3 separate regions of the Homo sapiens genome follow, and all the other regions are linked to region 2. The links come from fine-mapping of genetic effects on gene expression. A gene starts in region 2. Each other region holds a variant in brackets. All regions are shown on one strand. Distances are between the middles of the regions.

Region 1 (10,980 bases), 41 kb after region 2:
ATGCTACAGAGTGATGGATTTGATTTGTGAGAAATGTATGAAGCAAAGAGACATGAATGAAGTATTGGCTATGAAGATGCATTACATAAGCTGTATCTTTCAGAAATGCATTAACTTCTTAAAAGATGGAGAGAATAAACTGGACACCTTGATCAAAAGGTACTCTTTTTACTATGTCGTTTATAAAATACACTCAAGTGAATATTTTTTTTAATATGAAGCCTCATTATTATGTGTTTCAAAATTAAACATTTTGGCAGCAATTGCTGTTGTTGGACTCACATTTAGTCTTTGACAAACAGAGAATAATATTATACTTATATTGAGTGATTATTCAGTTCTGTATCCTTTACTGTGATGTTTTTGTTGTTACCAGCAATTTACAGATGAGGAATCTGAGGTTTGGAGAGGTTAAATAACATGTGTAAGATCACACCGCGAGAAAGTGGCCCAAGTCCAAATTTGAGAATATTTTATGCCCTAGGTCGCAGCCCTAGGTTTGTAATGGCATCCAGGGTGTCTCTGTTACTGTATCTTGGAGAGCTGTGTGTTATGCTGCTTCTCTGACCACCAGAGATCAAATTCTCTTGCATCCTTACCTAGAAAAGGGAACTAAGTCTGAAGGGTGTGGCTCTATGAGAGTTTTCATTCTTAGTACAAATAACTGACATGGTAATAAGTAACTAGCTAATCTGATAACAGTGTTTAGTGTGTTTTATGGTGGTAGTCACCTTTGCATATTCATTTAATGGGCTGGAAAACCTTATAAGGCCTAGCCTAACATATAGGTTGAACAGCAATTTGAACTGAGCCCGTCATCATGATTTGAAGAGACAAAGAAAATCATAAGTAACAGAAGAAACTACTAAAAACTGTTGGGTTCAACTAGGAGAGAATGCTTAGTGATTCAACTCCAATTACGCTTTAAAAAATATCTTTCAGCTTGTTAAAAGGCCGAGCTTCTGATGGCTTTCCAGTGTATCAAGAAAAGATCATTAGAGAAAGTATCAGAAAATTTCCTTACTGTGAAGCTACACTCCTCCAGCAGCTGGTTCGAAGCATTGCTCCTGTTGAAATTGTAAGGCTCCTCTTACCTAAGTTGACTCTATCAGTAAAACCTAATTCCCACCTATTGTATTGTTAAAGGCAAGTTCTCTTTAATATTTATTTTTATTATTTCAGAATATTTTTAGGAACAAAGGTGGAGATAGGTTTGCCTGCCAAACCTGTTCCTGTTTATTTATTTCCCATCTCACGATCCTCTTCTTACCTTATTATGGTTCATAGTTTCATAAACAGGACGTCGCTATGTTGAAATGTAGATGGTTAGGGTAGAAACTTACATTTTAAGTACATCCACTATGTAATATAGGTACACACATGTACACTTGTAGCTATATGAATTATCAGCACAAAGTCATACACTAGATGCAAGTATGAATTGATCACCTAGGGGGATAGTGTCCAGGCAGTGGGGATGTAGTGGGATAAGCCATGGGAAGGCTCATTGTGGTTCCTGGTAACAATCTCAAAGTATGCCTCAGCTTCCTATAATCCACCTTAATGCCTCTGATTAGAAAATGTCCATACTTACAACCTATTTATACTTACCCACTATATAAGTGTATTTTGTTAACTTTATCTGTTATTTAAATGACTTACTATTCATTTGTCATATATTTTAATTTATTTGGCCTTTTCTATTTTGCGACAGAGTCTGTTTCTGTCGCCTAGGCTGGAGTGCAGTGGCACAATCTCAGCTCACTGCAACCTCCATTTCCCAGGTTCAAGCGATTCTCCTGCTTCAGCCTCCTGAGTGGCTGGGACTATAGGTGCGCGCCACCACGCCCAGCTAATTTTTGTATTTTTAGTAGAGATGGGATTTCACCATGTTGACCAGGTTGGTCTCGAACTCCTGACTCAGGTGATCTACCCACCTCGGCTTCCCAAAGTGCTGGGATTACAGGCATGACCCACTGCGCCCAGCCACCTTTTCTATTTTGAATAGGTTTTTGTTTACCCTATCTATACCCATTCATGCTTTTATACGTTTCAATCAAAAACTTGATCAGCTTTTGTCTATCAGGCAAGAAATTGATCCTAAGACCAGTCCCATCCATGGCTTCCTCCCTCCCTCTGGCAAATCTGGTTCCCTTCTCTGTGCCTTCTCTCTGGGTTGTTATGTCATTCTCAGTGTGGAACATCAGGGCTTCAAGTGGGCTCCAGATGCTCCTTTGTACATTAAGAATTCACCTAGTCTGAGCCATAAAATAAACAAGAAAGACCTGAGCAGAAAAGACCATCTCATAAAGCTCATGCATTAATTTGTTCATGTGTGCTCCCCCTATTTTCAAGAGTTTCTTTACTCATACTTTTTAATATAGTTGGCTATTTAGTGTTTATGCTTTTGGAAGAATAAAGTTAGCAAATTATGATTTGTCAATTACAAATGTGTCTTGGCAGCACATATCAAAGCCCAACCAACCATGAATTAAATAGATGAGGGTTTATGTATTCACATATACATAGATGCCCAAAGGTAGGCAGACTAGGTCTGGCATAGTGACTTAAAAATAGTTTGGGGACCCAAACACTTTCTCATCTTTCCCTTCCAATATTCCTTAGCTGTGTAGGTTCTCATATGCATACTTATGATCTCATGGTTACGAGGCATTTGATGTTCCTCCTCCAGCTCACATTCCTATCCCAGGCAGGCAGGAAGAGCAAAGGGGTCTATATCTGGAAAACATAAGCTCTCCCAGAAGCCCTCTGCCTGTGTCACATGACTTTCCTTAGCTACACAGGAGTCCAGGAAAATTTTTTTTTTTGGCTTTTCTAAACACTCCTCCTCTGAACAAAATTACACTTCTGTTACTGAGGAAGCTGGGAGAATTGATATCAGAGAAGCAACTAGCAGTACCTGTTATGTGGGATTTCCAGCACTCACAAATGGTTGCTGACCTTTTACCTTCCTGGGAAAAAACAGAAAAACTAAAACAGCAACCCAGAGTTCTTTAAAAAAAAAAAAAAAAAAAAAAAGCAGGTCAATATTGTGGTCAACAAGTTATCCTAGCTCCATATAATAGAATAATGTAATTAGAGTTTATAGAGTATAATTATTATTATTTTTATTTATTTATTGAGGGGGGTCTTGTTTTGTTACCCAGGCTGGAGTGCAGTGGCGCAATCTCAGCTCATTACAACCTCAGTCTTCCGGGTTCAAGCGATTCTCATGTCTCAGCCTCCCGAGTAGCTGGGACTACAGGCACACACCACCATGCCCGACTAATGTTTCTGCATTTTTAGTAAAGACGGGTTTTCACCATGTTGGCCAGGCTGATCTTGAACTCCTGACCTCAAGTGATCTGCCCGCCTTGGCCTCCCAAAGTGCTGAGATTACAGGCGTGAGCCACCGTACCCGGCCTAGAGTATAATGATTAATGTTTATCCCAGTGATCTGAGTCATCAAGAAAAGGTTTATAATAAAGTTAAGATAGTATTTAATGCATTTTAGAAAGACTTTTCTTTAAACATTTTTGTTCTTTGAGAGTTTTATGTTCTTCTGTCTGGAAGACTTCATCCCAAATGCCTGTGATTGTGCGTATCACAGCCATTGTTTACTGCCTAATTGGTTTTCATATTCTGCAAGTTCTAACCCTCTGAAGTGATGCCCAACCTTTTCCCCGCATACGATGGTTCTCAGGGCTGGCTGCTGTGAGCTTCACTGTGTTGTTTTCTGACAGTGCTAATGCCTGGGCCCTCCTGCTCAGCTTTTGGTTCCCTCTGCTGCTGTGGAACTCTGGCTTCTGCCTGTCTCAAGGCTCAGCACAAAAGAGAATTCGTAGCACTTTCATGTGAAAGCAGACCCAGTCATTATTATTTGTATTCAAGAAGAACATGGTAGTTTCAAAATGAGTGCTACTTTTAAAATACTTCTTGAATCTTTGAATATTTTCTTTGACTATCTTGAGTATACAGAACAGTGTAGGACATTGTTACCAGGTGATATTTTTAAACCTCTATTATGTACAGTTGGTAAGATAATATAAAAACAAATATTCTTAGGAAGAAAAAGCAAATACTCAAATGAAAATGAAAATTATAAAGAGTGTCAAAATGCTGGTTTGGAACAAATGAACAAATTTGAAAAACTCAGAACAAAGAACTATTAGGAGTAGGTAAGAAAAATAGAAACGCTGTGATTATTTTTTGCTAAATAGGTTTTAGTAGCATCGTCTCAGACAGATAAATGCTTACCCTTATAATTTTTTTTTTTTTAAATACAAGGTCTTGCACTGTCACCAAGGCTGGAGTGTAGTGACACGATCTCGGCTTACTGCAACCTCTGCCTCCCGGACTCAGGTGATCCTTCTGCCTCAGCCTCCCAAGTAGCTGGGACTACAGGCGTGCCACCATGCCTGGCTAATTTTTGTATTTTCAGTAGAGTCGGGGCTTCACCAAGTTGGTCAGGCTGCTCTCAAACTCCTAACCTCAAATGATCTGCCTGCCTTGGCCTCGCACAGTACTGGGATTACAGGCGCTAGCCACCACACCCAGCCCCTTATAATTTTCTTTGTAAAAAAAGTTTATAGGCCAGGCGCGGTGGCTCATGCCTGTAGTCCCAGCACTTTGGGAAGCCAAGGCGGGCGAACCACGAGGTCAGGAGTTTGAGACCAGCCTGGCCAACATGGTGAAATCCTGTCTCTACTAAAATTACAAAATATTGGCCAGGTGTGGTGGCTCACACCTGTAATCCCAGCACTTTGGGAGGCCAAGGCAGGCAGATCACAAGGTCAGGAGATCAAGACCATCCTGGCTGACACGGTGAAACCCCATCTCTACTAAAAATACAAAAAAATTAGCC[G/A]GGCGTGGTGGCGGGTGCCTGTAGTCCCAGCTAGTTGGGAGGCTGAGGCAGGAGAATGGCATGAAGCCAGGAAGCAAAGCTTGCAGTGAGCAGAGATCACACCACTGCACTCTAGCCTGGGCGACAGAGCGAGGCTCCGTCTCAAAAAAAAAAAAAAAAAAAAAAAAAAGTACAAAAAATTAGCTGGGCGTAGTGGCGGGCGCCTGCAATCCCAGCTACTGAGGAGGCTGAGGCAGGAGAATTGCTTGAACCTGGGAGGCGGAGGTTGCAGTGAGCCAAGATCGAGCCACTGCACCTCCAGCCGGGTGACAGAGACTCCATCTCAAAAAAATAAAAATAGATAAAAATTATAAATATTTTTTAACCTATTTTAATTTTCCATTGCCCACTAGTAGTAAGTTTCACACATTTGGTTTTTCTTAATACTTTGATTCAATTGCTGCATGTGTGTTTCTTAACAAATTTGGAACATACCAATTATAATGGTGATAATTTATTTGAATTACAAGCCAACATCAAGTAAATGAGTTTAAATATATTGTCTTTAAAATACTTAGATTGTACTAAACTTTTCAGAATTAAGACAGTTAAACATTTTTGATGTGCCCTATAATTGTCTCATGGAATATGAATATTTTCTGGATGTCAGTTCTCAGAAAAAAATTCTGCTCTGGAGTTATTGTCCTAAATCTGAAACGCTATGGGCTTACTGAATTATCCTTATTGGAAAAATACTTTTTTTCTAGATTAAGGGTGTTTTTTTCTCTTTAATTATCTGGACATATGACTGACTTTTCATATGTTTTGTACAGAAAATGGTATATTCTAAAAGATTTTTGTCATTTTGTCTTAAAGCCTGTGTAATCTATAGCCTTAATGATTTCTTCCTTTTTGTGTCACATTGTAGGACGGCAGTGTCCGTGGGCTGATACCTCTGTAGTGTTTCCATGGTGATTTCAGAATTTGTTTTTTCTCCTCTTCATGCCCACTCTAGGGTTCTGATCCCACTGCATTCTCCGTCCTTACCCAAGCCATCACTGGCCAGGTGGGTTTTGTGGATGTGGAATTTTGCACTACCTGTGGAGAAAAGGGAGCAAGTAAAAGATGTTCAGTTTGCAAAATGGTAAGAATGGAGTTCTTTTTATTTCATTGACCTCTGGTTTAGATGCAGCCAAGCTGATGATTGAGTTTTAATATTCTGTAAGAGTGGACATTAGTTTTCTAATAAATTCTAGTAACGAAAATATTCTATTTAATACTTAAAAAGTAGTTTTGGAAAAGAATTAATAGGATCAATATAGTTCTTTACTGTGTCTGTCTTCTGCTAAACTGCCAGTCTTCCTTTGCCTCTTTGCTGATCACCTCATGGAAAGAAAGGATATGAATGAATGAATATGAGAAAATAAGAGAAAGGTTTTCCGTGGGGCACGAGACCAAGGCTGGTGCAGATGTGAAACCTAGAATAGGACAGTTCATAAATATACATTCTTTACTCTTCTGATGTTGACTTTAATGACAGTGTCTTCATCAACATATCCTTGTAAAACTATAGTTTCTGACTGTTACCAGTCTTTAATCCCTATGGACTGTACTGCCCCCTTCTGCCAGAATTATCTTTGTAAAAGGCATATCTGATTGTGTTGTTCTCATATCCAGATACTGGACACATGCATGTGTCCGTACATTCACTTAATCCCATAGGTAGCATCAACTGCCTGTTGACTTTAAGGTTGAAATTCTCCAGCATGTTGTATGAAACCCATTATAATCTGCTGTGACCTACTTCTTCAGCTTCATCTTGTTTAATGACTTACTTCTCTGAACCTGTTTCCTGAATTAAATGAAATTCCAGAATTAAATCAAACTATTTATATTGGTTAATTATTACTGCTTATAAAAACACACTCAAACTCAGTGCTTAAAATGATAATCATTTAGTCTTTCTCTCACAGTTGTGGTTGGCTGTTCTCAGCTGGGGCAGTTGTGCTCCATGTGACTCTCATCCTTCTTGTACTAGCAGGCTAGGCTGAGCATGTTGTCATGGCAATAGCAAAGGTACACATGGGCAGGTAGAAACACAGAAGACCTCTCAAGGACTAGCCTTGAAATTGCCATGTTGTTTCATGCTGTTGGTTGAAACAAATTACATGGCCCAATCTGAAGTCAAGTCTCCTCCCCTTCAGTGCAGAGAACTTTGAAATCATGTGAGAAAGTGTATGAATGCAAGGATGAATGAAGAATTGGGGCCAATAATACAATATATGTATAAGGGCCTACCACAGTGCTTGGCATACAGTAAGTGTTTAATAACATTCATTCCCATCTCCTTTCCACCCCTACTTGCAAAAATATAAGGCCATTTACAAAAACTTCTTGCTGTTCTTGAACATATCATTCACTTCCCTGTTCCTGCATTTTTGTACTAGATATTTTCTCCAGTTAGAATTCTTCTTTCCCATTTTTCTGTCTACCTCGACTCACCACAGCTAGAGTGAGTTGCTGCTTCCTCTATGCCTCCATCACTCTTACATCCTGTACTGTGTTAAGAAATTATGTATTTAGGTGCCTGCCTCTCTCCCTTCTTCCATATCTTTCTTTTTCTTGATGCTAGCTACCTTTGGGACAACTCTATCTTCCTTGTCATTGTACTGTACCAATTCTGGCACATAGCGGGTTCATAATAAGCTATTTGCTAAAGTCTTTGGTAGACTGTTTGTTATATATTCATTATTGTTTTAAAGTAAAGCTACAAACTATAAATCTAAATCAATACAAAGATACTGTGTTAGGCCGTTCTTACGTTGCTATAAAGAAATACTTGAGACTGGGTCATTTATAAAGAAAAGAGGTTTAATGGGCTCACGGTTCTGAAGGTATACAGGAAGCATGGCATGGGCATCTGCTCAGCTTCTGGTGAGGTCTCAGGAAGCCTTCAATTATGGTGGAAGGTGAAGGGGGAGCAGGCATGTCACATGGCAGGAGCTGGAGCAAGAGGAGGTGGGGGAGTTGCCACATACTTTTGAACAACCAGATCTTGTAAGAACTCACTCAGTATTGTGAGGACAGCACCAAGGGAAGGGTGCTAAACTGTTCATGAGAAAACCGCCCCCATGATCCTATCACCTCCCACTAGGCCCCACCTCCAACATTTGGGATCACAATTCAGTATGAGATTTAGAGGGGACAACATCCAAACTATATCAACCACATATTATGGTTTTAAAATAAAGTATGGAAAATGACATTTTTATAGCTTAGTTCTTGGTTTAGTCATAGTTAGGAAATCATACAACCCAAGCTCTGGAAATGAAAATAAACCAACAATTGCTTTCAGGTAATATATTGTGATCAAACCTGCCAGAAAACACACTGGTTTACTCATAAGAAAATCTGTAAGAATCTGAAGGACATTTACGAAAAGCAACAGTTGGAGGCTGCCAAAGAAAAGAGACAAGAGGAAAACCGTATGTATATAAAAACCGAGTTCACTCTGCTTTTTAGTGGAGAGAGAGATGATAGGTGATCTTAACACACTGAAACTGCGTCTTCTCTGGAAGCCATAGGAGCTCAGGAGTGACCGATGTAAGAATCACATTTAAATTTTAATGTGTCCCGTTTTTAAGTTCTTAGGATATAGTCAGCCTGGACATCACTGGAAAACAGAGACATCAAATTCTGAGGGATGTAGCTTATTTCATATTTTACATTCTAGCTTAGGTTACTGCCCTGGAACAATGGGACCCTTAATGGGTATTAACTTATATTCTGCTCATGAAGGATTTTAAAGTCTTTGAATAAGGGAATTAATTAAATTTCCACTAATGGCTACCAGAAGATTTTAAGGGTGGAAGCCTTTAAATTCCTTAATTAAATTTCAGAACTACAGGTGAAATTACAGAGTATATTTATAAATCATTCATTAAATTGCAGATCTAATATACAGATCAAATTTCTACAAGTGTCATAGCAGTGAATTTTGTATTTTTTTTTCTCCATCCCTCTTGAGGTTTTGTGACCCATTTTCATCAGAAATAGTGAGTTGCTTCAGCAGTGATTATCAGATTGGAGAGGAGAACTGCCCCCACCCTCATGCCTCATTCCAGAGAATGTATCATATGTTCTGGGGGAGTGCATGTAATTTGAAAAAGATGCCTCGGTTATTCTGATACCAGGCATTTCTGCCTCCATCTCTCAAGGAACCATATCCGCTTTACTACTGGGTTGAGATATACTCTCAGTGGAATTAAATGGTTTGTACACAATTAAACCATTTATCCTTAAGAGAATAGTCAGGCTTTCTGACTGCCATGCCTTCTCTTGTTTTCTTGACCAAACTTTTTTATTCTATGTGCTAAGGACAGAAAGTAACAAATGTTCATTACTAACACACTATTGAGGGAGAATAAGATTGTCAGTAGAATGGGCACTCCCAGTTGTTAAGCATCATTCATGCACCAAACACTGCTCTAAATGTTACAGACAACTTTATTCTTCACCAATGTAGGATAGCCTTTATTACCTGCATATTATAGACAAGGGAAACAACTTCATGCAGGCAATTACCTCTCCAAGGACATCAAATAAATTCACAGAAAAGCTGTATTCAAATACAGGCTTTGTCAAATCCCAAGCAACAATCTTGATTTAGAGATGGCTTTGGAGCCAGCGGCCTGAGTTCAAATGCTGGTTCTGCTGTTTCACTAGCCAGGAAACTTGCAGCAAGCTACCAAACCTCTCTCTTCTCAGTTTTCTCATTTGTAAAATAACGTTAGCGATGACAGTAGAGATACTAATATACCTCATGTAGTTGATAGGAAGATTAAATAATACATGTAAAGCATTGAGAAGAGTGTCTGACACATGGTAGGAACAAAATAACTTCTTCTTTTTTTAATCAGACGGCAAACTTGATGTCAATTCTAACTGTGTTAATGAAGAGCAACCAGAGGCTGAAGTAGGTATCTCTCAAAAGGATTCCAATCCTGAAGATTCCGGGGAAGGAAAGAAAGAATCTCTTGAAAGCGAAGCTGAGTTGGAAGGCTTACAGGATGCTCCTGCAGGGCCACAGGTGTCTGAGGAGTAAAAGCCAGAGCAAGTGCCAGTGTGGATGATCCTCACCCTGCAAGAAGCTGGAAAACTCCTAGGAATGCATTGTCCTCACCTTGTTATACCTGCGTGGCACCATGGCAGGATTCCACATTTCATAGAATACAGGTTTTCAAGCAAACCCCTGTTGACCATGCCCTAATTTCCTATTGATTTCTGTTCTATAATTGAATGGATATTCCTATGGAAAATTTTTTGTTTCAAAATACAGGAAAAACATTCCTATTACCTTTCTGAGGCTGGCTTTCCAGCAATTGTTTCAAAGGAAAATAGATCCCCTTAAAGAAAAAATACAGGCTTTAGGGAACAAAGGGACAAGCAGAACAGGTGTGGAAGAGAGATTTTCAGGAAGGGAAAAATTTATAGCTACAGAGGGTAGTTAGAAAAATCATAACTTATATGTGAATAAAATACATATAAGCAGCATTTACGGTAGTGGCATTCTACTTATTAAGATGCAATGAAATGAAGAAAGGCTTTATGTTCAAGGACCTTTGCCATAGTTCAGCTAATTGTAGTTTTATATAGAAATGATCCTGAACACTCTGAACTTGACGTAGTCCTGCGGTGATATTCTATCTGCAGTATTTGTACCTCCAGAATGGCAGATCCCTCAGCAGGAACAAAGGCATATTGACGGTTCTCTCAGCGTATGCATTAAAAAAGGTACTTCCTGAAACTTTTGATTCAATAATGACTAAACATACTATGTACACAATTACTGTAAGGCTAATTCACGTGCCATACTCCACCTGAAAGCCTGAGTTATCTTGCTATAAGCTTTTCATGGAGCACTTCCTTTCCAGAAACTGATTTGTAACTCATTTAGAGAATGTCCTGGCGTCGGTTTTTAGCATATGTGGTATTTAAACAGAGCTAGAATGTGATGTCTGAAGATAATGCTGCATTTCTGGGTTTCTTGTGTGGATTTTAAAATAAATTGTGCCTACAAATATAAACAACTCATCTTGTTTTATAATTTGCTGGGGAGTGGCAAATATTAGAGAAGT
Region 2 (10,980 bases):
CTAACACCGCATCCTTTTCCTCCAGCCAGCAGTTTCCTCTGCACCGACAACTAGGGGTTCTCTTTCCTGTTTATAATAGTCCCATTCAATTACCTTGTTCACTGAGAAAAACATATAACATTTCTTTTTTCTTCTTAGAAATGACCATAAATCCAGGTTAGTTTGAAAACCATTAAAGTCTTCTGTGTGGATATATAAAAAGGATGACAGTAGAATATCATCCAATAGTAGCTTATGATATATTCTCTACAGTGCTAAACGTTATTATCCCTTATTATTCATCTCTGCCCCAGGGCTTTTCTTGAGATTTATTTAGAAGTCCTCAAAAATAACAGTACACCTGTTATATTTTTTAAAGTTCTCATCTAGCATAAAAATAAGTTGAGATGTAAAAAGAAAATATAATGCTACATCTGACACAAAAAATAATTCTACATCTTAAGTTATTGTTTTCCTACTAAAATATTAATATTTTCAGAATGGAATTAAAGATAGCCAAAGGATTATACTATCTTAAATATTAATACAGGGCATTATTCTTTCTTTTTGTCATTATACTTTTTTCCTTTAATTTTTGAATAAACTTAAAAAACATCAATGGAAACACCTATTGCTAAAAATCAAGAAAGAATAATGAGAACATTATCTTTTTGGCATTTAACCTTAAAGAATGGTTCATTCAATGAGTTATTCAAATCTTTATTTTCAAAATAGATAGTTTACAAATATGACTACCTGAACAATTTTGGCACTCTTCACTTAATACACGCCAAATTTAGAACGGGGCAAATCATTCCACTCGGCACCTAACTGCCCAAAAGATACTTGCTAAAGAGCGCCATGGCCTCAATACACAGAAATGAGTGAGTTAAGAATGAAAAGTATTCTTGTTTATGACCTGCTAAGATTGGTGGATTTCATATTAATTAAATATTCTTGTAAAATCCCAAAGTCTAGGATGACATGTTATAAAGGACATTTAATATATCTAAAACACAATAAAAAATTGTAAAGATCAAAAAATCAGTTTAAAAAATTGCACAAATTAGAAAGTAGGTGTCAGATTAAGTATTCAGCTAAGCAAACACTGAGTAAGAACCTACCAGTCACACCCTGTCCTGGGCCTGCTCCTGATTTTCCTAGACTAATACTTATCCTATCAGTGCTGACATTGCTCGAAACAGTTTTGGTACTCTTTTTTTTTGGAATGCCTTCTGAGTTGGATTATGACGCACAGAAGAACATCAGTATCTCCACTTCATTCACCTCTTGATTTTCTCAGTTAAACTAAATGTATCTGTACCCCTTCTTCAGAATTTTCTTTTCAAAAAAGATGAAGATTAACTACCAGTAAGATATTCATCAATTTGTTCTACAAGCACTGAGTAATGCCACCAACCTTTTACTTTTTGGAGAAGTTAAAATGTGATGTCAAATGTTTATGGAAACGCATTGTTCACAAGACAGTTCTTTGCAGATTTAGGTGTAACTGTTTTAACACTTAAATGAATAATCACATAAGCGAAACTCCAAGTATAGAAAAAAGAACATTTGTATTTATATTACTTTCTTATGTTGTGTTTAAAAAAAAAAGATTTCTTAGAGGCTGTAATACTTCCAAATTTTCTTTTTAAAAACTTCATTATGGAAAATCTCAAATATATCCAAAAGTAGAGAGAACAGTATAATCAAGTGAATATACTCATCACCCATCTTCAACTGTTAACATAGTCAATTTTATCTCATTTATATTCTCATTCAGTCTCTCTTCCTTTCTGTCACAGAATTATATTAAAGCAAATCTCAGCTGTCTTCTCATCCAGTTCTGAAATAATTCTGTTCCTATCTCTAAAAGATAAGTAATCTTTTAAAAATATAACCGTAATCTACTTCCAACTTAAAAAAATCAAAATTTCTTATTATCAAATATCCAGTCAATAAAGATACCTAAGTCTAAGGAAAAAAAGTCAAATGTCAAGACAAACAGTACCCTGAAAGATGTAATACTCAAAAATGCAACAAAAAGGCAGCATTCTCCTAATGTAGAGAGCTGGAAATCAGGGTCTTTAATGGGGAAATCTAAGAATGGCATGCCAAATTTGTAACATGTGCACAAGAACAATTTTTCTTGGTTGATAGCATTCATCAGAATGTCAAGAAGCTTGAGATCCAAAACATTTAAAGACTTTCTGCCTCTGGTTATGATTGTGCGTGCTTAGTGCCACCTCACCTCACATTGCCAGGAAGGATTAGTCAAGTAGGAAAACAAATCCACCTAAAATAACTTAGAAATCAAACTGAATTCAACTCAGCTTGTACTGAGCATACACTAGGTGCAAGACACTGGGTTAAACCTGAGAAACAAAGATAAATTTGACCTAGTTAATGTATACTGTAGAATGAGAAGGGACCAAACAGATTAATAATAACTATAATAGAATGCGATGAGAAAGTGCTTGTTTTAGGTATTTTCATGGAGATTCAGATGAAGAAGCAATGATGTCAATTTAGGGGGGCGGTAAAAGAGGGGTCGCTAGAATCCATAAGAAGAGAGAATTAAAGGCTGCCAGCAATGATACCAGTAGCCATGTTGCATATCAATATCCTCCATGTACAAAGATTTTACTTATAACCCTTGCCAAGAGACATGAATAAATGTATTTACTAGCATGTATATTTCCCTTACTGGATAGAGAGGGAGAGATGAACACAAAAGCTGAAGAAAAGAGGTTTTGTTTAAATTGTGTCTGGAAAGTTGAATAGTTCATCAGATCTGGAGAGGAGATTCAGTGAAAAGGGAAGGGAAATCATTCAGAGGAGGAGAAAAGCAGGAACAAAGGGGTGGAAATTACCGGCAGGTTGGGGAACAAGCAGAGTGGTGACCTTAGAGCCCAGTGTGTGGGAGGGCCCAGATGACTGGAAATGCCTGCTGAGACCATGGATGGATTGGAACCTTCCAGGCCAGACCCAGCCCTCTATTCTGTGGCCAGCAGAGAGCCATTCAAAGAATGATGGGTGCTCAATGTTTATTGAACTGGTAGTTCCCTGAATTAGCTAGATGGAGACAGGTGAGAGAGAAGCAGGCTACTTAAGATGCATTGCAATAGCTCTAGAGTGGTAGATATGAGAGGACACATACAACATTTCAAACATTTCAGAAATCATTATTCCAATTCTGACTTGACACTTCCTAATATGGGATTGTGGGCAAATTATTTCCCTTACTTTCTGTCCTCTTATTTGCAAAGTGGGTATAATATTGGCTCATTCCTGGGTTGTCATAACACTAGAATAATTCTATGCAAAGCATCTGGTAGAATATCTAGCACAGACTAAATACTCAATATGAAGTAGCTATCTTATTATCAATAAAACTTCTTTGATGTGAATCTGTTTTAATATGCTCATTATCTAATCTTATCCCTACATTAAATATTTACACCATACAAAACTACTAATGTAATCAATCCATCTAATGAACAGTACCCATTATGAATCTGTTTCTAGAAATGTAAACTGAACATGATTTATTTGCATTTCTAGGTAGATGTTAGATTCTCTTTCAACGTTATTGTCTCTAAATTCACTGGTCATGTATTCAGAGAGCACTAAATACCAACCAAGTGTCATAAGGCATCAAGAAAATAGATAGTAAGCTGCTATCCTCGAGGAACTGACAACCCCAGTGAGACAAACAGGTGTGACCTTCAAGTAACCATGGCCCAGATTTGGCACAAGAGATGGAAATACTAGCAATGAAGTACCCAATTATGTGTATGCATCTGCTGGTAAGATGCTAAATCACATGTTCCAGGAGGTTACCACTCAACTGTTTTTTTAGGTTTGTGGGTTTCTTCCGCATGATACTATGTTATAAATCAATTGTAACTCTGAACTAACAGCATTACAAAAGATTGGTCACTCTCAGGAGCCTTACTACTTGCTTGAACAGCCACATCATTATTAAAGCATCATCCAACAAAAGTATCTTTGTTATACACTGAGATGAATAATTTCAAACCATTTTCATGTAAGATGTTCTGGCTCAGATCTGTCCCAGTCTTTAATGCTGAAGCTTTAGGGGGGAAAAACAGCTGGAGTTTAGGAAAGATTTTTGCTAAAGGCAGGAAATAATGATAAACATATTCCAGGAGATTTCAGATGTTAGTGAAAGCTTCACGCAAAATAAATGCCTAAGGCCAGAGGAAAATGCATTTCGCTTTTCGTATGGCGCTATGAGAAGAAACAGTGGTCCTGGGGATGCTTAACAAAAACCACCTACATAATTACTCAAATATTTCTCTTTGACACATACACGTCTCTTTGACACACATATTGAGAGAAACATCAATACTACTCTGTAGGGAAACAACAGTAAAACATAAACACTAATTTCCAAAGAAACTTTCATTGATGATGTAAATATAAATCTGCACCCTGGAGAAATGACTGATTCCCGCATTTTAGCAAGCAAATCTTATTCTGAAATACACACTTGTATTTACCCCCATCTACCTATGGTCGAAGCTCCAGGCTACATATTACAGTTGAATGAAGGTTGGATTAAGAGGCTAATCTAAGGCTATATATAGGCAGCAACACCAATTTAATCTCCGCCCTCTCCAACCTCCCCACCCTCCACTCCCTATTTCCATAAATCTCAAGATCTGAGTTACAAAGAGAACCGAGAACTCTAGCAGAGCAAAGAAGCCCTTCCTTCCCCCTCCCACAGGCTGTCTCTCATAAACGAAGTATTAGTGCAAGTGTAAATTGTTTCCAAACATCTTTAACAAGCAACATTGGGCGATCAGGTTTTCTTCTACAGCTTCCACAGAGGCCAAAGAGATGACAAGTAGTGGGGAGGGCGAGGATCACCAGCGTAAAAACTACCTTCTCCCGAGTCTGTTCTCACTGACTCGCTAGTAATGGGGCGCTGTCCTTGCGACCCCTACCTAGCCCAGAGCCCCGGCCCCAGCCTCCCCGGGAGCCGCATCTGGCGGTGCCACGCACGAGACCATGTGCACCCGCCACTTCCCACCGCGTGGCTGGCCCCCGCCCGCCCGCCCGCGGTCCCAGGGTCTCCCGAGGCGGCCAAACGTTGCGAGTCGGAGGTCTTCATCCCAGGGCACTGATACCCCGTACGCGCCGTGATGATGAGGTGGAGCGGGGGCTTCTCCACCGCGAGGCAGGAAGCCGCCCCAGGAGGCACATGCTTCCTCCCCGCCAGCTCCTGCCCGATGGAAACCCCGGCGGGGCGGCAGTCGCTACTCTCGCAACCCTCACGGCGCCCCTTGCCTCACCTGGGCTGCTTCTCACCTGTCCGAGGAGGTAGCGACGACGCGCAAGGCTGGGGGCTGCGGCGATTCGTGCAGCAGCAGCGGCAGCAGCAGCAGCAGCAGCAGTGGCGGCAGACAATGGAGGAGTGAAGGACAGACACATTGACATAGACACACGGAACCCGGCGCAGCCCCGCCTCCCGTACCGCCCCCGTCTCCTAGACCGCCCCCGCCCAGACTGCGCCACTCCCGGGGGAATGGTGGGGGTACGGCGACAACCTGGGGCCTCTGCATGCCCCAGAAAGCCGTCGCTGAGCACATAACTGCCAGCTGTAGAATTTTCAATATTACATGTGGCGAAATATTTGAACCGGACAGGATAGGGGAGCGGAACGTGTAGGAGGAATTTAATTCCCCCCTCCAGCTTTCTGCATTTGGTTTTGTCCTCCCAGGTTGCTCCAATGGCGATCTCTCGCTACCGCCTCCTGCGGCTCCTCCTCCTCGGCAGGGCCAATGACAGGCGGCAGGCGGTGACCGCCGCAGGGCCTGCGGAGACCGTCCGCCTGGCTCGCCCGAGCTCGCCCGCTGTCCGCCAGCCCGCGGGAGGGAGGAGAGAAGCGAAGCGTTTCCGCGGTTGGCTACTCAGTGTCTTGGTCTCAAGTTGCCTCATTGCGGCTGGCGTTCCCAATACAGACGCATCGTTTCTTTTTTAATACTCCCTAAGAAAGGGAATAACCTTCAAGCTGGCGGGAGCAATGGTTCACATAAAGAAAGGCGAGCTGACCCAGGAGGAGAAGGAGCTACTGGAAGTCATCGGGAAAGGTACGGGTGCTGGGCTGCGACGCGGCCGCGGCCAGCCTGGCCGGGGGGCGTGGCGGAGCCCGGGGGGCGCTCCTGGCCTGGGTGACCTTTGGCTGCGGTTCTGCAAGGTTTGCAGCCTGGAACCGGGAAAGAGCGTTTCTCCCTTTGGTCTGGGAAAGGTTGCAGGGGCGGAGAGGTGGGGAGGCAGAAGCAGTGCTGGGACAAGAGGGGTAGTTACAGAGGCTCGGCCTCTAAATCCGCTTTTGGAAACGTACGGATTTCCACGCCCCGCCTTAGGTTAATGCGAGCTTCCCGGGGTGTGGACCCCAGTGTGTGAATTCTTCACTGCTCCCGAGGGATTTTGACCGCGGTCAGTCCTGGTAGTTTCAGGTTCTTAGGCGGGTGTCTAAATGACCCTTTAGACTTCCGCAGGCCGAATGATCTGGATCCTTTGCCGATCCCCGCCCCCGCTTGGGAGTGGAGGGCGCCCTTAGGGAGAGGGGTTCTTCATAAGGGTACAGAACTAGGTCTGTAATTTGCTGCATTGAGACTTCCGTATCCAGGGCCTCCCTGGCTTCCAGAAGCCCCGACAGCCTCAGGAACCCTAGAGAGACAAGGAAATTGGCGAGGCCTCCACACCCACCCCTCGGCCCACGTTGCACAGATGAGACCTTCTAATCGCGCTCCTTCGCGCTTTCTTGTCCACTCCCCCAAGGCGTGCCCCACTTCCGCAGTGCTGAGTCCCAGCGGGGAGCCCCGAGGACGAGCCAGAAGCCATATTTCCCCGGAGTCCCCGAGTGGACGTCCCAGAGGAGTTCCCTGCCGAGTCCCGTTACCTGGCAGGTGACATCAGCGTGACTGCATGCTTCTTCTGCACCCTCACGGTGCAGGGATGGTGATGCGTGCGACTCCGGGCAATTAATGTGGTGATTTTAAACTCAATAATAATATAGCCATGTTTGTCCTCGAATGGCAGAGATGCCAGTCATTGCAGCATAAGGCTTCCCAGTTTCCAGTTTTATTTACTTAGTAGCCAGGCTGAAATGTGGAATCCTAGAGAATAAGGCAGATTTATTCTTCATAGCGACAAGGAAACTCCACATGCGAAGGAGAAAAAATTCCGGTTTGAACTCAACAGGTGCTGATGAGCTGAGCCCACCCGATCTGATCTCAACTATTCTAAGTCAGTCACAGCTATATCTATCAATGATGTGTTCTTTGCCTGGAATTTGGGGATTTGGGTTAGAGTTTAGATTGTTGTACTGCATGGTTCTTGCTGACCTATTTGGCATTTCAGTCTTTCAGTTCTTCCTGTCTCTAGGTAATTTCTCCCTGCCTTTGATGGCTCTGGGATTCAATTAAGCAAACATGCAAGTTCTAGCTGTGTGCCAGGTACTGTGCTGGGCAAAAAGGAGACAAAGGATCAATTCACAATCCACCAGGGACAAAAATTCTTTTAGGCAGGACAGAGCTAGTACATGTCCTCTCTCTCTCTCGCTCTCGCTGTCTCTTTCTCTCTCTCTCTCGTTTGTTTGAGACAGGATCTCACTCTTCACCCAGGCTGGAGTTGCAGCTCTCTGCAGCCTCCACCTCCCTAGTGGCTGGGACTACAGGTGCGAGCCACCATGCCCGGCTACTTTAGAAAGATTTTTTTTTTTTTTTTGTAGAGATGGGGTGGTGGGGGTCTCCCTATGTTGCCCAGGCTGCTCTCGAACTCCTGGGCTCAAGTGATCCTCCTGCCTCGGCCTCCCTAAGTGCTGGGATTACAGGCATGAGCCACTGGGCCTGGCCCATCATGTGATCTCTTAAAAGTGAAAAATAGTGAGCAGTTTTATAAATTGAGTCTTTGAGAGGGGAGAAGGGATTCCTTGGATACATTCTCAGGTGTCCATCAGTATTTATTTTGAAGATTATATAAACCTGAATTAATGTGCATTTATTCTGGTTAGTGCTGTGATATTTCTGGGCTCACACGGTGCATCAAGTTGCATGAGTGCACTGATGCTTTCATCGCTTTCATTGGACCATGCCAATGAGAAAAGAACTGATGTGGACCTAGTATGTGATGCATTCTTGTCAAATGAAGGTCTGTGGGACATCACTTGCACTCATAAAGAAAAGTAATGGGAGATATGAGAAAAACAACCATAGCCAACGTTTATTGACTGTTATTGCAAGCCACACATAATTTTAAGTACTTTACATATATTAATGCATTTAATTTGGATGAGCTAGGAATTAATTTTAAGCTATGACAGTATGAGAGACAGCATGGGATAGTGGTTAACCATGCAGGTCTGGTTTGAAATTCTAACTCATTTACTGGTGATGTGGCCTTTGGGCAAGTGACTTTTCCTGAGCCTCAAGTCCTCTGTGTGAAAAATAGGAATAATAATAATACCCACCTCACAACGTTGTTATGGGGATGAAAGTAGTTAGTATAGTTAAAGCATTCGAAATACTGCTTGTGTTTGTGATAAATATAGTAATCTTCACTTTATAGGCAAGGCAACTGAGGAACTGGGAAGTTAGGAAACTTAGTGTCAAACAGGTAAGTGGCAGAAAGTGGCAGAGCAGAGGTATCACAGGGCCCATAGGTAATAAACAGGCTGTACCTAAAAACAAACTAAACAAAACATGAAACAGTACCATAGCAGTCCATACAATATTCACTTTGAGAGGTCATTTAGTTCTAGCAAAACAACATCTGTCAAGTTAACTCAGTTTTAAATGTTACTGATTTTGTAGTTCTGTGTGCATTAAATTTAAAGTAAATTTTTATTTTATAGTTGAAGAAAGGCCATAAGCAAAGTTTATATTTGTGCCAAAAAGAGGCATTTTTTTTAAAGTGGGTGAAGTGAGTTTTTTTTTTTTTCTTTCATACGTTTTTCAACTTTGAAAAACTCTAGATGAGACAATAAGTTCTAGTACTTTGAACTAACAACTTTTCAGCAAAGTCTAGCCTGGCATCTTGGTCAATCTGAAATAAACTCGGCAAATATTTAAGTGATTCCCATCTGCCAGCCACTGCTCTCCAGAAAGACAGACTCTAAGTGGGGCTTTTTATTTATTAGAATGCCAAGAAGTTCCAGATGAAAATGAAAATCTGTTTCCAACATACCCATTTAAATCATAGTTAATGACAGCATTCATTTAACAGTATGTAAGAGGAAATTGAAATCACTGAACTGTGTTTAACTGGCTTATATGACTTGTAGAGTTACCCATTCTTCTAAGCTTTGATACCTTTTTCATTAATCTCAGAGCAAGCACTATTATGAAATAAATTAAACCTTTTTTAAGGCTATGAGCTAGATAATTTTCACATTACTTCTCTTATTTAGTACCTGAAATTCCTGGGCTTACTGTTGCTAACAAGAAAGTATTATACTTCCTTTTTTTTTTTCATATCTGTGTAAAGGAGCTATGAAACAAGTTTGGATAATAAGGCTTTTTCTTACCAACTATTGAGATACAATAAATTGCACATATTACAGGTAGTACACACTTTTTAATCAGTTTTGATTTAAACATACATCTGTGAAACCATCAGTAAGATCAACATAATGAACATCTTCATCACCCCCTAAAAAGTCCTTATGCCTCTTTGTGATCTGTCACTAACTTCACCCCCATCTGCAGGCAACCACTAACAGATCTCTGCCTCTGTTGATTAGATTTCTCTATTCTAGAATTTTATATTAGTAGAATCATACAATAAGTATCCTTTTTTTGAGGGGGGGCTGGCTTCTTTCATTCAACATTATGATTTTGGGGTTCATATTTATTATGTGTACCAATAGTATGTAGCTTATTTTCTTCTTTTATTTCCAGTGGAAGGATATACTACTATTTGTGCATCCATTCCCATTGATGCCCAATTGTTGTTTCCAATTTGGGACTATTGAAATAAGATCCTGTTCTAAGGTCCTGTGTCGTTAATAATACTTCTGGTGTCTTTATGGTTGAGAAACATTCAAGTCTGCTTATAACCAATTATAGTACAGAGTTCAAAGAAAAAATTAAAATATATGGTTACCATTAGTTGGATGGCTGGACAGGTTATGCAACCTATATGGGCTTCATTGTCTTCATTTTCACAGCAACAGCTCTTTTAGATACTCCCAATTTTATACAGTGCTCTGTAATACTAATTTAAGATCATTTTTTTACAAAGTCTAAAAATAGATATGAGTAGGAGACCTTTTAGAAACATCGCACAAATTCACGATTTCAAAATGCATGTTATAATTAGAAGTCTCCACTATGTGTGTGTGTGTGTGTGTCTGTGTGTGAGACAGGGTCTCACCCTGTCACCCAGGCTGGAATGCAATGGTGCGCTCTCGGCTCACTGCAACCTCTGCCTCCCAAGTTCAAGCAATTCTCCTGCCTCAGCCTACTGAGTAGCTGGGATTACAGGCGTGCACCACCGCGCCCGGCTAATTTTTGTCTTTTTAGTAGAGATGGGGTTTCACTTTTAAAATATATTTATAGCTTTATATCTATGATTATATCAAAATCTATATCCATATGTTCTTGTTTTAAAATTAAGGCACTTTAAACATTTTTACATGATTTTACTTATACGTAAACACTATAACAACTAACAAAGCCAAATAGATTTCTAAATCCTTAACTTGATTATATATTCCTTAAAATATCCGTTTTCGTGGCTTCCAATAAATAATGATTGCAATCCAGCTGGACATAGTGGCTCATGCCTGTAGAGTGACCCCTCTGCACTTTGGGAGGATCCAAGAGGATCACTTGGACCCAGGAGTTTGCCACCAGCCTGGGTCTCAATATAGTGAGACCCCGTTGTTACAAAAAATGTAAAAATTAGCTGGGTGCGGTGGCGTGCACCTGTAGTCCTAGCACCTCAAGAGTCTGAGGCAGGAGGATT
Region 3 (10,564 bases), 27 kb after region 2:
ATGTTAAATTTTATTAGAACATTTTCTTGAAACTACTAATAGAAGCTGCCATTGATTAAGCCAGACACTCAGTTGCTTTATGACAGCTTTTTCTGTTAGAAGAAGTATCCTTATTTTCATTTCAAAAGGACTTGAGAAAGGTATGGCCTTGTGTAAGCTTCGGAGAAATATTTTAACTCCCGTGTGTACAGGCCCCAAGTTGCCCCATCTCAGTTCTGAGCTAATTTTGAGGGTGTCACTGCAGGGGGAAAGAACACTAAAGTAGGAATCTGGAGACTTGAACTTTAGTTCATGTGTGCTGATAATTAGTTATAGGATCACGGGCAAATTCCTTTACCTCCATAGGCCTCAGTTTTCTGATCTGTATGCAAAGAAGCAGGGGAATTAGGTGATCTCTGAACTTCTATTTAACTGTACAAGTTTTCATTATATCCACAATGTAACAAAATATTGCTCAGATACAGGTAAAAAAATTTCCCAAGATCACAGGTCTGGAAATGGAGGAGTCTCTTCTTTCAGGCATTAACACAATGCTCCTTTCTTTTTCTTAACACTACAATACTAACAAAATTTTTACTACAGTAAAAATTGTTTGCAATCCTATCCTAAAATAAGAGTAATGTTTTCATTCCATTTTAATATATTTAACTGATTTCACAGACAGAAAATTACATTGCACCCTTCCAGTTGTTACTGTATTTTCCAAATAATTAGCCTTTAAAAAAGCTCATTCTCCCCTTTTTGTTTCCTTCAAGTGGATCAGTATGTATACATGCGTACATACATACATAAGATTTTTGTCATTTTTTAAAAATGCCACCCATCACACAGCAGATATTCCTTGTAGCTTGTTTTCTTCACTTACTAATACATCATGGAAGTTCCTCCCATCTCAGTAGGTGTAATTCATTTCCTTCAACAGCTATATGATACTCCATGATATAGATGTTCCACAGTTCAGTTAGCTCTCCCTTATTGACAGATTTTACAGTTTTTTAACCACTTTTCTACAAATAATGTAATAATCATCCTTGATTTTCTATGTTTTACAAGTTAGTACTTGAATATTTTTTACATGTTAGAACTTTAATATCTCTAAAGTATTTCTTAGAAGTAAAATTGCTGAGACAAAGGATATAGAGTTTTTATTTTTATTTATTTATTTATTTATTTATTTATTTATTTATTCATTTATTTTTGAGATGGAGTCTCGCCCTGTCGCCCAGGCTGGAGTGCAGTGGCCCAACCTCAGCTCATTGCAACCTCCGCCTCCCGGGTTCAAGTGATTCTCCTGCCTCAGCCTCCCAACTAGCTGGGATTATAGGTGTGCGCCACCACGCCTAGCTAATTTTTTTTGTATTTTTAGTAGAGATGGGGTTTCACCATGTTGGTCAGGCTGGTCTTGAACTCCTGACCTTGTGATCTGCCCGCCTCGGCCTCCCAAAGTGCTGGGATTACAGCCACCACGACCAGCCTAGAGTTTTAATTTTAATGTAAGTCTAGATTCCTTTCCAAAAGGGCATAGTAATTCACAGTAATATCCTCATCAGAGCTGAGTATTACCATTCTTTGATTTTTGCCACTCTGATAGTTAAAAAGATGGTACATTGTGAACTTACTTTCCCCTCATTATTTATGAAATTAAGCACTTCTGTTGTTGGTAATTTGTATTTTCACTTTTGTGGATTACCCACTTATACTCTTTATTCATTTTTTTGTGGGGGGATGCCCTTTGTTATTGCTTTGAGGAGCTTTATGCATACAAATCCATTATCTAACAAATGTGTTTCAAATATTTTATGCCAGTCCTCCTCTTCCTCCTCCTCCTCCTTCTTCTTCTTCTTTTTATTCCTCTTCTTCCTCCTCCTCTTCCTCTTCTTCTTCTTCCTTCTTTCTTCTTCTTCTTTTTTAACTTTATGGAGACCTTTACCATAGGAAATTTATTTATTTATTTATTTATTTATTTTTTTGAGATGGAGTCTCACTCTGTCACCCAGGCTGGAGTGCAGTGGCATAATCTCGGCTCACTGCAACCTCCACCTCCTGGGTTCAAACGATTCTCCTGCCTCAGCCTCCCATGTAGCTGGGACTACAGGTATGTGCCACCACACCCAGCTAATTGTTGTATTTTTAGTAGAGATGGGGCTTAGCCATGTTGGCCAGGCTGGTCTCGAACTCTTGACCTTAGGTGATCGTCCCACCTCCCAAAGTCCTTAGGATTACAGGCATGAACCACTGTGCCCGGCAGGAAATTTATTTTTAAGTAGTCATATTTTTTCTTTTATAGCTTCCGTGTTTCTTGTTTTGCTAAAAGTGGGCCTCTTGACCAGGAGTTACATAAGTATTCTCCTAAATATCCTTCAGTTATTTTTTATGATTTTTTTGGTACATCTAGAATTTATTTGTTTAGAGTTCATTTCCCCCCAGATATATAGCTAATTGTGATGGCACCATTTATTACACCAGCTAACATTTTCCTACTAAATTGAAATACCACCTTTGTGGTAAGTTAAATTCTCTTTTACTAAATGATTATATAATTATTTGCAGAGAATTAACATTTGTATGAGGTTAGGACTTTCCATCCAATTACACAGTACACTTTTACATTTCTTTTAGGGGAGGGGACTGACTTTTGGTCTTTCAGTAATATTTAATTGGTTCCTTCATATCAATCCTTTCTTTCAAAATTTATTTCTTAGTAATTTGTGGTTACTGTCCACATGGTAAGAATTTGCACTACCACCTCCACACTCAGTCACTTCCAGCTGGTTATGGATAATAAAGAGAAAAGCTATTGATTTCTGTATTTTTTTCTTATTTTTATTACAGTTTACTGCGTTTTCTAGCTATTAAACTTTATCTTGATTTCTATTTGAATTTGCTTCGGGCCAAGTAAGAAGAAATAATAGTGATAATTGGCATGTCTTTTTCCTGTTTTTAATGAAAATATTTTTAGCTTTTCACTTTTAATATATTGCTATTGGTTTTATCATTGTATAATGTCACTCTTTTTCTTGTTGAATTCTTTTAGTTCTACTTTTACTGATATTACAGCTATTCATAATTCCTTTTTTTGTCAATGATCTGTTTGCTCATCTGTTATTTTCAATCTTTATCATTTCATTTAAGTAGTATAACTTATAAACATATAGGTGGGTTCTGTTTTGTAATCTAAAATGTTAGTTTCCCTCTCTTAACAGGTATTTAGCTTATGTATATTTAATGTAATTACTGATATATGTGGTTGCATTCCTCCTCTTTTACCTCATTTTTACTCTTTATTTTACTTGACTATTGTTTGTGCATGCATCTGTGTGTGTGTGTGTGTGTGTGTGTGTGTGTGTACACATGTATTTCCCTAAAGTGATTGGCTGGTCAAAACTGTACAGTACCACATACCCCATCCCCAAGGCCCCATATTTACCCATTTAGCAACTTTATAAGATGAAATCCTTATACTTCATTTATTTCTCCACATTCTCTGTTTTTGCCTTGTCAGGCCACAGGTCTTTCCTTTCTGCCTTCTCTGATACTTCCTCAAAACCTGTGCCAATCATACCTGTAGCTGTGGACTTTGCTGAGAGAGTCTAGTATTTTTAGCACAAGCTGTAATGAGAGTGTCATTGACAGGGTGTTGCTTCTCTTTCAGTAATCCATACCACCAGCTGTGTGATTTGCCTGTCATCTATCTTCACCCACTCATATGAACTCACTCTCTTACTGTCCTCTCTCTCCTCCCCTTTGTCTCCATTTTTGCATTTTTGTCTTTAGATCTCTGTTCTCATTTAGATTTTGGTTATAGGACCTTTTCAAATGGGTTACGTAGGTTGTATATTCTTTGACACCCATCATGACAAAACTATTAATACCTTTCTTTCTGAAATGTGAGTCATATTTTGCCTAGCTTTCTGACTCATATCAGAGTTCTTTTCTCTCCGACATATAGAAGTTATTCTACAGTTTTCTAAGTTCTGGTTTTGCAAATGAGAATTCAACTTACTTTCCATTGTAAACTTTACATTTCTCATTCTGGAAGAGCATTTGATTTTCAGTTTATCCTTGAAAGTAAAAAATTTGAAAAGGATACGTCTTGTTGTATGTGTGTGTTCCTATTAATCACACTCAGTGAGCCCTGTAAGTCTAGAGGACTCAAATCTAGTGATTGTAATATGGGAGCAAAATGATGTACTGGCTTCTCCACCTGCAGCATTTATTTTCTATATTAGTAGTATTATTTTATTTATGTATATTCAGAATTTATAAATTTAAAACTAGTAAAATATTTAAGAATTTCAATTACAAACATTTAAACCTAAATGATTAAGTATTTACAAAGATAAACTTTAAACATATTATTCAAATATGTTATTAGCAGATTAATTAAAATAAAATATCAAAATAAGCATTACCTAAAATGAAAAACCTTAATCTGGAAAAAAAGGTAAAGTAATACTATTTTTTCTTTTTAAAAAGGTATAATTAGGCCGGGCACAGTAGCTCACGCCTGTAATCCCAGCACTTTGGGAGGCCAAGGCGGGCGGATCACCTGAGGTTGGGAGTT[C/T]GAGACCAGCCTGATGAACATGGAGAAACCCCGCCTCTACTAAAAAATACAAAATTAGTTGGGCGTGGTGGCAGGCACCTGTAATCCCAGCTACTCGGGAGGCTGAGGCAGGAGAATCCCTTGAGCCTAGGAGGCGGAGGTTGCGGTGAGCCAAGATCGCGCCATTGCACTCTAGCCTGGGCAAAAAGAGCAAAACTCCATCTCAAAAAAAAAAAAAAAGGTATAATAAAGAAATCCTTAGTCTTGTGACAGTATCTTTGTTATGTAGCAATTATTTTTATGTACAGATATTTCTACCTGCTGCCTGCTTTTCCTAATTGTACTAGTTGGAGGACTGATGAGAAGATACAGTTATAAGCTAATTCCTTATTTTTCTCTGACTCCTTTATCTTCAAGTCTTCATATGTCTGGTTCAGTACTTTTGATGAGCTATTTTGGAACTTTTGTGTGTGTGTGTGGAAACACCTATCTTTTTATTGAAGCTGGATGTAGATTTTGTTTTAAGGAAGCATGTGCGGTTTGTCTTCATCTTCTCTGGTTTCTTCACATACAGTTGTAAATTTCCTCACAATTACTTGGGTTGATTTTGATAACTGTGTTCATAACCCACTTGCATTAGATTTGCTTGGTTGAATGTCATTTTTCTCTCTTGAAGATTCTGGAAGGAGAGGTGATCATTTTCTAAACAGAGCACCTTGGCTCATTTCACATTTTTAATATAGACTGCTACTGTTTGACTTTTCAAGACGTATGTACTGGGGAAAGAAATAAAAGAAATACCCACCTCCCCGAATCCCCCCAAAAAGAAAGAAATTGGGTGTTCTGGTACTTAATAAAAGCATAGAGTACCAAAAATGGTATTGTGATCACTATTAAATTCTCTTTTCAAATCAGGGAAGTTTTCTTTTATCATTTGTTTAATTCTCCATCTATTCCTTTTTTTCCTTTGAGATGTCTGTTAATTTTCACTATTAGATTTCCTGGATTTGTTCTTTAGCTCTTTCATCTGTTGTATAATGATTTCTATATCTGAATTTTTCTGTTTTGAGATATTTCATCCACTCGATCTTTTTTGTTTGTTTTGTTGAAACAGGGTGTCTGTTACCCAGGCTTGAATGCAGTGGTGTGATCAAAACTCACTGCAGCTTTGGCTGGGCATGGTGGCTCACGCCTGTAATCCCAGCACTTTGGGAGGCTAAGGCAGGCAGATCACCTGAGGTCAGGAGTTTGAGACCAGCCTGGCAAACATAGTGAAACCCCATCTGAAAATACAAAATAGATTAGCCAGGTGTGGTGGCACACACCTGTAGTCTCAGCTACTTGGGAAGCTGAGTCAGGAGAATTGCTTGAATCCAGGAGGCAGAGGTTGCAGTGAGCCAAGATCACGTGACTGCACTACAGCCTGGGCAACAGAGCCAGACTCTGTCTCACCCAAAAAAAAAAAAAAAAAAAAAAAACACGCTCACTGTAGCCTCCAACTCCTGGCCCCAAGCAATCCTCCTGCCTTAGTATCCCAAGTAGCTGGGACTACAGGCACATACCACTGTATCCAGCTAATTTTTTAAATTATTTGTAGAAACGGGTTTGTGCTGTGTTACCCAGGCTGGTCTGCACCTCCTGGGCTTAAGCAATCCTCCTGCCTCAGCCTCCCAAAGTGCTGGGATTATAGGCATGAGCCACCATGCCTGCCCTTCATCCTCTGTGTTACTAGTTTAGTTCTCAATAGTAACCAGGATCACCTCTTTCAGTTTGCCTGTTAATTTTTAAAATTTGAATCTCTCTGCGGCTCTTGAAAGTCTATTTATATATTATAATTGAATCTGCTTAAGTGCATTTATTAGCTGTAGTTGTGGTAGTTATTGTTATGGTAAATGTTACCCACACACTTTCAACCCAAGAAGCCCTCTGTTGGAGGCATGGCGTAGTCTTCAGAATTGCTGGATCCCCATACGTACCTTGTTCTGTACCTCCCAGGAAGTCAGGTAAAGCTGATAGGGTCCTGGATCAGTGGAAGAAGAAAATTTAATGTCTCAATTAAGACATTAATTAATTACTTTAGAAAATTATCACTCTCCTTATAGAATCTTCAAGAAGAGAGAAAAATGACATTCAACCAAGCAAATCTAATGCAAGTGGGTTATGAATACAGCATCAAAATCAACACAGGTAACTGTGGGGAAATTTAGAAATGTGTATGAAGAAACCAGGGAAGATGAAGACAAACTGCATATGCTTCCTTAAAACAAAATCTACATCGAGCTTCAATAAAAAGATAGGTGTTCCCATAAAAAAAAAAAGTTCTAAAATGTCTCATCAAAAGTATTCAACCATTTAATTGAGACATTAAGCTGGTTTGGTCAGCAAACCAGCTGAGGCACAAGGATGAAGCCTGCCACTCCTGGGTTCTCCCAGGAACTTTCAGGGACAAGCAGAGCCCTCTGCCAGCCTCAAGCGCCAGCGTCCAGCTGGCCCACAGTGCCATCCCCACGCAGGTCACCTGTTGTCGGCAGGATCAAGCAGGCGCTCCCAGGACCAAGCACAAGCAGGCAGGGGCCATGCAGGCTACCCAGGGGGAACCACTCTCCGGGAGCGGGGGCCATGGCGTCTGCACGCTCTCCCCAGGCGCGCCTCCGCTGGTCCCCCAGCCCTCATCAGGCAGAGCGGAGGAAGAAGTCTCCTCCGGAGATCCAGGAAGAGCCTGCGCCCGCCCTCCTGTGTGCCCTGTGGCTTCTGCCTGCTTGCCCAGAGTGGCCACTGCTTTGCTCCAGAGAGGTAGTGGAGAGGGAGCTAGGGAGGGGGGGGCGCCGCAGGAGCACACTTGCAAACCAGCAGCTTCGCTAGGGAAGAATTTGCTTTCATAGAACCATTTTTAACTAGAGATGGCTTAGAGAAGTGGCTTGGAATTCTATGCAAAGCCACGATGTGGATTCCAAGCTTATGGGAGCGAAAGCCTTTTCTCTACATTTCACAAAGAGGGCAAGCTTTTCTCAAATTTAGGGGGTAGGGGATAAGGGGGAGGGGGTTTAGTTTAATATTATCATTATAGTAAGAACAATACTTTATATGGAGTAAATTTAAATTTTGTGTAAATACAACTGGATGTGATTAGGGAAACATGAGCATCATTTGCGTAGGCTGGGAAGAAGAGACATTTAACTTACAAGCAACTGTTAGAAAATACTTAAGGTCTCTTACAAGTTGAGCAGTGCTTTCTTTTGTAATCCACATAATCTTCGTATGTATTTTGGATTCTGTGTCTTTCAAAGATTGTTTATCAACTTTACAAGGAATGTTTATAAATGTTCTCTAAAATATTTTATCTCTCCTCCTCCTCCTCTACTCTCCTTTCCTGAAAAATAAAGATATTGGTGCATGTTTACATCACAAAAATAGCAACATAATTAATTTTAAAAACCAGATGTGTTATTTTTAATACTAAAACTACAACTTTTCTATTTTTCTATGAAAAGGTCAACATGATTGTGTGACCATAATCAACAATTTCTTTCCTCGAGAGAGACTGGATTATTACACTAAGCCCCAGGGACTGGATAAAGAGCCAAAACTGCCCCCAAAGTTGGCAGGCCCGCTGCACAAAATTATCACCACAACGAATCTTCATCCTGTCAAGGTAGTGTGGTGTCTACCGTATTTGCTTTTTATGTAAATATTGCTTCAGAGTTTAAACTGCTTTTATTATACAGGATCATAATTGTCTTGGGGTGGGTTTTGTAGTTGTAGAGCTTGCAGTGGGCTCTTTTGGCCTGTTAATTTATTGAAGGAACACTCTCCGTTGAAACCTGGAAGTGAGTGAGCGAGAGAGAAACAGACTAAACCATCAGGAAAAGCCACGCAAAGAGATGGGTTTGCTGAAGCCTAGCTTCCACCTCATCCCACCGGGAGCTCTGGAGTGTGAGTGGCTCCAGAGAGGCAAAGGAATTCTTTTGTATTCATCAGTCTGTTGTTGGGTGGGGCCTGTCTCCAGAGGGAAAGGACAGCCTCCCACATAGTACCAAGTGAGGTGGCTCCCTTTCAATGAGGGTAGTCCTCTGGAGAAAAGACCATAGTAGCTGACCCTGAGAGCCCCGGGGGCCTGGTATACAGGCCTGGTAAAAAGGATGTATGTGGGGGCACTAACAGCATCTATTACAATAATTGTCTTTCTAAGAAAGATTCTGAAATGTAATCATGAGCACATTTTTAAACTAAGTGGCTATTTGATGCCTTTAAATAACATAGTTCTTCCAGTAATTCATCAAATCAGATTTTCAAATTTCATAGGCCAACACATAAGTTCAAATGGCTTAACTGGGAAACTTCAAGAGCTATTCTGAAATATTTCACTGCTATTGTCTTCCAGATTTTAAAAATACAGGCTTTTGCTGTTGTTGTTTACACATAATTTTTTCAAAAAAATCCAGCTAAACAAGTATAATTTCCTCAATAATCATCACAGAAAACTACACAGCTACATGTGTGCTACAGTGATGAGGTCCTATTTCAATTTCAGTATCTATCACATGCTTTTACTCATAAAGATTTGATAGTAGTTCAGAGCTGTTTAAGTGAGCAAGATACTAAGTTGTGTCAAAAGTTAAGGTTCTTCCTTAACATAAGGCGTTACTATCATGTAGTAAAATAGATTTCCCCAGAAGTTTATTACGAAAGAAGAATCTGTGGAGTCTGCTGAGCATCATGAAAATGAGTGGACAGTTCTTATAAGGTGACTCTTCTGAAGACTGACACTCACTCAAAGATATAAGATCCAAAATGTGTATAATCTTATTACTTTGTTGATGCATCCCTGTGCATCTTTCTTGAGTACTTGAAGGTTGAGAAACAAACCAAATTTACTCATTGTGTGTTCCTCCACCCAAATTAATTTTCTAGGCCCTTAAGAGAGATGACAAACTAGTAGATACCTTTCCCATCAGACAGAAGAGTGGAATCTGCTATTTTTATTTTAGAAAACTCAGAGTTTTTCTTAATATTCTGGAAGAACTGCCAGAGGCAACACTTGTGATACTAAGTGGGCAAATTCAGTTGTGAACTGCATACTCATGTTTCTAGTGGAGATTACAGAGGGCTTAGAATTTAACCTTTAAAAAATATGTATTTTCTTCTGTGTTACTGTTTCTCTCCCTCCCAGCATACCTAGGGAAAAGAGAACTCCCAAGAGAAGCATTGACCTCTGTCCATGGCACTCTCTCAGGCATGGGCTGGCTGGGATGGGGAGACAGGTTTCTGTCAGGGTACAGTATTTCTCAATGTAGAGAATGTGTGTGGTTCTGTAAGACTCTTGTTCCTCCACTGCCTGAGCAATACAGGATATTCTGGCTTAGACTGACTTGAAGAAGTTCCCTGTACTTTTCTGATTCACTGTCTTTCATATCTATGTTTCTGCCTCTTCAGATTGCAGTAAGGGTTTGTGGAATTTTTTTTTTTTTTTTTTTTGAGATAGGGTCTTGCTCTGTCGCCCAGCCTGGAGTGCAGTGGTACAGATCTCGGCCTTCCAGGTTAAAGCGATTCTCCTGCCTCAGCCTCCTGAGTAGCTGGGATTACAGGTGCCCACCACCACGCCTGGCTAATTTTTGTATTTTGGGTAGAGATGGGGTTTCTCCATGTTGGCCAGGCTTATGGAATAATTTTTTATGTTTACTTGGAACCCAGTCTTTCAGGGTTAAATGTCCTAATAATTATTAATACTCTACCTTCAGTTATCTTTGAAGGTATATATTTTAAGTAAATTAGATTGAGGGCATAATTATGCAGACAATAATTTGTAAAGGTATATAGTCTGAAATAGACTACATAATATTTTTTGGAGTATGAAGGGGGCTATCCTATTATATACCTTCCTCCAGACCAGACCTTGCTTTTTGTAGGTATAAACAATCTATTCGCTCGAAACCTTTTCTTTTATCCACCCTTGGGATCTAAAAGCCACCCAGTTGCTTTTGTTACTGTGGCCCATTTTTATTGCTCTACCCCCTTTTTAAG

Which allele goes with the higher level. Positions count from the first base shown, and alleles are read on the strand shown. Sizes are in standard deviations (SD) of each study's normalised expression. Not every link is listed here.
For the expression in prefrontal cortex of the gene that starts at base 5,851 in region 2, allele C in region 3 goes with a lower level than allele T (small effect, 0.25 SD a copy in GTEx).

The links. PIP is the estimated chance that this variant, and not a neighbour inherited with it, causes the effect. A credible set is the group of variants that fine-mapping cannot tell apart.
Region 1: its variant is the best candidate, but not a certain one, in a credible set for the expression of ANKMY2 in whole blood (TOPMed, PIP 0.86).
Region 3: its variant is the best candidate, but not a certain one, in a credible set for the expression of ANKMY2 in prefrontal cortex (GTEx, PIP 0.83).

The regions. Positions count from the first base shown.
Region 1 is chr7:16,599,728-16,610,707 of GRCh38, reverse strand. It overlaps ANKMY2 (ankyrin repeat and MYND domain containing 2), which reads left to right. Exons shown (of 10, transcript NM_020319.3): 6 at 1-159; 7 at 943-1,078; 8 at 5,859-5,987; 9 at 8,199-8,328; 10 at 9,763-10,929. The coding sequence ends at 9,947. It overlaps LOC105375169 (a long non-coding RNA gene), which reads right to left and starts at 5,883. Exons shown (of 5, transcript XR_007060226.1): 1 at 5,797-5,883. The variant G/A (reference allele first, on the strand shown) is at 4,865.
Region 2 is chr7:16,640,625-16,651,604 of GRCh38, reverse strand. ANKMY2 (ankyrin repeat and MYND domain containing 2) reads left to right here and starts at 5,851. Exons shown (of 10, transcript NM_020319.3): 1 at 5,851-6,098. The coding sequence starts at 6,032. BZW2 (basic leucine zipper and W2 domains 2) reads right to left here and starts at 5,424. Exons shown (of 12, transcript NM_014038.3): 1 at 5,317-5,424. RefSeq lists enhancers at 2,739-3,250, 5,445-5,724.
Region 3 is chr7:16,613,375-16,623,938 of GRCh38, reverse strand. ANKMY2 (ankyrin repeat and MYND domain containing 2) reads left to right here. Exons shown (of 10, transcript NM_020319.3): 5 at 8,035-8,195. LOC105375169 (a long non-coding RNA gene) reads right to left here. Exons shown (of 5, transcript XR_007060226.1): 3 at 7,760-7,913; 4 at 6,520-6,563. Among named protein-coding and RNA genes, the nearest start is that of ANKMY2, 27 kb to the left of the region's middle. The variant C/T (reference allele first, on the strand shown) is at 4,565.